Regions from separate parts of the Homo sapiens genome. Here region 2 is linked to region 1. The links come from fine-mapping of genetic effects on gene expression. Tissue or cell type: whole blood. Region 1 holds a variant in brackets; the other region holds the start of a gene. All regions are shown on one strand. Distances are between the middles of the regions.

What was found. PIP is the estimated chance that this variant, and not a neighbour inherited with it, causes the effect.
Region 2: it holds the start of MYO1E, and the variant in region 1 is fine-mapped to the expression of MYO1E in whole blood (INTERVAL, PIP above 0.99).

The regions. Positions count from the first base shown.
Region 1 is chr15:59,345,296-59,348,053 of GRCh38, forward strand. All of the region lies in intron 1 of MYO1E (myosin IE), which reads right to left. Among named protein-coding and RNA genes, the nearest start is that of MYO1E, 26 kb to the right of the region's middle. The variant T/C (reference allele first, on the strand shown) is at 1,436.
Region 2 is chr15:59,371,520-59,374,277 of GRCh38, forward strand. It overlaps MYO1E (myosin IE), which reads right to left and starts at 1,352. Exons shown (of 28, transcript NM_004998.4): 1 at 979-1,352. The coding sequence starts at 981. RefSeq lists a silencer at 297-616 and enhancers at 632-1,135, 1,136-1,640.

The sequences.
Region 1 (2,758 bases):
AATACAGCATAAAAAAGCAAAGGTATCAGGACTGAGAGTTTAACTCTTACCACACATTACCCTCTCTGAGCCTCAGCTTTCTCTTGGGGAGCCTCAAAATCCTGTGCTCAAGGGATTCTCCTGCCTCTGCCTCCTGATTAGCTGGGACTACAGGCACATGTGCCACCACACTCAGCTAATTAAAAAAATGTTTTTAGAAATAGGGGTCTTACTATATTGCCCAGCTTTACCAGCTTATTAGAAGCCAGTGGGTTAAGCATTGACCTTTAACTTTGGCTTTTCATCTGCTGTCAAAAAATAGAACTGCCTAACTACTTTTATACTTCCTGTGATACAAGATGATTGAGGAAAGACAGGGAAATGCAAAGAGAGAGGTACCAGGAATAGAACATTGTTAACAGCTGGCATGCCCTGACTCAGGGAATGGAGGGGTATTTAGCCTGTGGATGCTAAGGATGTATAGAATATTTACCAATTCTCAGAGTCTCTAAGGCCTTCTGTGAGTTATCCATGGTTTAGACACATGTCTGGATTAAAGAGTTACTGTTACTTTCCTCTGCTTTCACATAAAACTTCCTTAAAGCTGTGACAACAATTCTGGGGTAGAGGGATGAGGTTTTATCCAGCAGTTGCATTGCTTTCTTTCTAAAAGACTTTCAAATGCAGCTAAAACACGTGGAGGTAGTACTTCCGAATGCATGTGAGTGAATATCACTTTATAGTTTGCAAAACACTTTTTATATAATTGGTTCTTAGAATTACTTGATTCCTGGAATCAACATTTTTTCCTTCTGAGATTGTAAGCAAAGGTCTGGCTCCCACTTCTGAATCCCTCATTCAGCTAGGCAGAATTAACACATCTTTCCCCTTCTTCCACTTGTGCTTTCTTGACCTCAGGATGACGAGGTGCATCACTGAACATCCAGCCCCCGACCAGGGACCTATTCAGAAGCACGAACTGCAGGCTGTGTCCCACCATGGATCACATTCAGCCCAGACTCAGCTCCTTCTGCAACCCTGCCAAAGAGCCTACGAATGACGGCCCCATAGCCCAGGCCACTCTATTAATGAAGAAGAGTGCACTGGGACACTTGAGGAGAACCTGTTTTGTCTCATGTTTTTGAAGCAAGAGTAAAAAATGGAATGCCTCAAAATGCTACAATCCCTCTATATTCAGGTGAGGGAGATTCTTGTAATTCTGTGGGTTATGACATGATATCCATTAAATTATAAGAACTATGGATAAAATTATTAATATTTTCAAAAGACAATGTTTTAGGAAATATCCCATTCAAATCAGTAACAAGGGTAATAAAATGCCAGTAATAAACTTAAGAAATGGGGAAGATGGCTGGGCATGGTGTCTCACGACTGTAATCCCAGCACTTTTGGAGGATCACTAGAGCCCAGGAGTTCAAGACCAGCCTGGGTAACA[T/C]GGCAAAACCTTATCTCTACAAAATAAACAAATAAAATTAGCTGGGCATGAAGGCACACAGCTGTAGTTCCAGCTACTCAGGAGGCTGAGATGGGAGGATTGATTGATCCCAGGAGGTGGAGGTTGCAGTGAGCCCTGATCATGCCACTGCATTCCAGCCTGGGTGACAGAGCGAGACCTTGTCTCCCAAAAAGAAAAAAAAAAAAAAGTGAAAGAATTGTGTAAAGAAAAGCATAAAGATGAATGGAGGCCCCTGAAAGAAGGGCTGATGGGGAAGGACACCATGTCTGTGGGTATAAGGCATCAGTTACAAAGACGTTCACCTTCTCAAAGTGCTCTAGAGCACGGGTTCCCAACCCCGGGGCCATGGACCCGTGCTGGCAGTGGCCTGTCAGGAACCGGGCTGCACAGCAGCAGGTGAGTGGCTGGTGAGCAAGCATTACCGCCTGAGCTCCGCCTCCTGTAAGATCAAAGCAGCACTAGATTCCCATAGAAGCACAAAGCCCATTGTGAACCGAATATACGCAGGATCCAGGCTGCGCGCTTCTAATGAGAATCTAATACCGATTATCTGAGGTGGAACAGTTTTCTCCCAAAACCATCCCCACTCCACACCCCAGGCTGCAGAAAAGCTGTCTTCCACGAAACCGGTCCCTGGTGCCAAAAAGGTTGGGGACTGCTGCTCTAGAGGGTTCATGCTACTCCAACCAAAGTTCCAAAGAGATTTTCTTATGGAACTTTGACACATTGATTCTAAATTTTATCTGGAAGAGTAAATGAGTATAAATTGCCAAGAACTCACTTAAAAAGGAATTTAATTAGTAAAGTCTTGCCAAAAATAAAAATTAAAACATATTCCGAAACTAGAGTAATTATAGAATGTGGTACTAGCAACTGGTTTAGGAATAAAGAAAAGGATCAAGGAAACAGAAGAGGCTAGAAACATATGATAGATATGAATTTAACATAAGATAAAGGTGGCACTTCACAACAGGAGACAAAGAATGCACCAGTGAATAAATTATTTTTAAGACCACTAACCATGCATTTGGAAAAAATTATACCCCTCACACCAGAAAAGTAAATTTCGGGTGACATAAGGAGCTAAAATTTAAAAATACAAAAAAGTTCTAGAGAAAATATGTATGTAATTACATAATTTGGGGTTAAGGAAGACAATCTAGGAAAAGAAAAACACCCTGCTGCTTATGATCCAAGACCCACGTCATTTTCAATTCCACACAGCTGTAAAGCAGCGGCTCTCCTATCAGTTTTTCCACTGGAATCACCTGGAACCCTGGTGAAAAACAGATTTTGAAGCCT
Region 2 (2,758 bases), 26 kb after region 1:
AGCCCAAGGGAGGTGGCTAAGGTTATACAGGGAGGGAGGGGAGTGTAGCTGGACTGGGGAGTTGGAATAGCAGAAAAGTCACAAGTCAAAGAGGCGGCCCCTTCCACACATTCCCAAAGTGCCAAAGGGAAAACAGCAACAAACTCGAAACTCGCGAGGGCGTCTTCCCGTGCGAAGCGTCCCCTGGATCCCCGAAAAGCCCCGATCCCCTCGCGCTTGGGAAGGGGTGGGGTCCTCTTCAGGAGGTGTTTACTTGGCGTCCGGGGCGCGGAGACCCTCGGGGCCGGCGCCCGGCACAGGTCCGGGGCGGCGTGGTTGCCGCCCGCGCCCGAGTCTCCCTGGCTCTTGACAGCCCGCCGGCCGCCAGGTGCTCGCCCTACCTGGCGCCCCCGCCTGCCTTTGTGCGGCCCGCGCCGCCCCTCGCCAAGGCGGGCCAGGGACCGCCCCCGCCCGCGTGCCGCTGCCAGGCGGGACAGCTGCGGGCGCTGCCGGGCAGCGGAGCGGCGGCGGGGAGGAGAGGGAGTCGGCGCGAGGGTGCCCGGGGCGGGGCGGGCACGGCCGCGGGGAGGGCAGGGGACGCCGCCAGCGGCTGCGGCGCGAGTCTCCGAGCACCTCCCCTGCCGGCTGCGCCCCCCACGTCCCAGCAGGAGGAGGGGACCCCCTCCCGCGCCGTGCCCCTCGCAGCCGATGCGCCCACACCCTGGCTTCCGACAGCTGGCAGCCATAGCAACCCGGCCACAGAAAGTTTCGCGACGCAGAAACCGACTTGGAATAAAGTTTTCCTTGGCCCCTCGCTCGCTCTCCCCCGGCCCGGGTTTACGGAAAGCGGCAGGAAATCAGAGCTCGCGACGTGCCGGCTCCCGCGTCCACCTTCTCCACCCCTGGCCCCGGCAGCGCGCCCAAGGTGGGTGCACCACGCCGGGGTTTCCTGCCCCGTCCCCGGGTCCGGCGTCCTAGGACGCGGCGCGGCCAACTCACCATGGTGACTCGCGCCGCGGTCGCGTCTTCGCCGGGTCCCGCTGCCGGGGAACTGGGGCTGGAACGCAGTCTTCTGGGCGAACTTCAAAAGTTGGTTCCCCTCGCCAAAAACAGGCTCCCGACACCCAAGCACTCACAGGAGCCAATGGGAACCCAGAGGGGACTCCATCCAGGCGGGATTGGCGGTGCTAGGTGAGGGCGAGACGGCGGCGACTTAGCAGGCGGGGCGCATGCTGCGGAGGGCAAGAGTCCACTCGTACTCGCCGGTCGCCGCCGGCCCAGGTGAGTCCGATGCGCTCGGAGCGTCCGCCTCGCTCCCCTGCCTCACTCCTCTTTCTTCGGCCACTTAATCCGTACTCCTCTGGCTGAGTCTCGGCTCGGGCCGGGCAATCTGTCCATAAATGGAGAACTCAGCTCAGGCCTGACCAATCAGGGTTTGTTTTCGTAGCGTCACTCCTCAGGGAAACCGTAGTAGCCAACAAGCTTGGAGCTGCTGGAGTTTCCAAAGATCTCTGGATCCTGTAGTCCTCCTCCCGCGCCAGCCACCGAAGAACGCTGCGGACCCAGCTCGCTCCTGGTAGCAAGACCCGAACTGTAAGGAACAAAACCCTCGTGAAAGAGGAGCAAACCTTTCACTTCGCTGCGTTTTAAGACGAAAGTTAGGGTGGGTTTCGCTTCCAAGTTGAAGGGGCATGATTTTCCCAGAACTTTTTTTTAAGAAGGAAATATTTTATCAGCATAAAACATCAGAGTCGTGGCAGCAGCCCAAAGGAAATCCTTTTTCTTTCCTACGTCTGGATTGTGAGCAAAGTCAAAAATATCATTTCCCCACCCCTCCTTTTACCTGAATTTCCTTGGAAAACAAAGGAAGACTTCCGGCTGCTTTTTCTTTTCTTTTTTCTGTTTTTCTTTTCTTTCTCTTTCCTTTCTTTCTTGTTTCTTTTTTGCACGTTTTGATGGCAGAAAAGTTGTTGCACGTGCAGTGGGCAGAGGGAAGGAGAGAGGAGAGATAGGTGGGAAGAAACCCCATCCAACCTCAGCCAACACATCTGCTGAAAACAATCAGAACTGTAAAAATGCATTATTCCAGACTGTCGAATATCCAAGGAGAAGATTGGGGTGGGGCGGGGTGGGGGGAAGCAGAATCTTAAAATCAAGGTAGGGAGTTTGATTTTATTGTTCTGGAGGCTGAGGAAGTAAATTTGGTGAGTCTTAACAGGCTGCCTTCCTGGAATCTGTAGAAGATAAAATTGGTAAACTTCAGGGCATAGAGAAACTATGAAGCATAATGATATTATGATACTTTCTGAAATTTGGTTGAGGCAGGGCGCTGTGGCTCACGCCTACAATCCCAGCACTTTGGGAGGCTGAGGTTGGTGGATCACGTGAGGTCAGGAGTTTGAGACCAGCCTGGCCACCAACACGGTGAAACCCCTTCTCTACTAAAAATACAAAAATTAGCCCGGCATGGTTATACATGCCTGTAATCTCAGCTACTCGGGAGGCTGAGGCACGAGAATCGTTTAAACAGGGGAGGCGGAGGTCGCAGGGAGCCGGGATCGTTCCACTCTACTCCAGCCTGGGCGACAGAGCAAGATTCTGTCAAAAAAAAAAAGAAGGAAAGAAAGAAAGAGAGAGAGAGAGAAGAAAGGAAGAAAGGAAAAAGAAATTTGGTTGTAGCTCTTCACTTGACTATCTGAGCATAGAGTTAGAAAGGGTATTAAACTTTATCTTGTCTAAAAGGGTAAACAAAATGTTACAACATGGATGAATCTCGAAA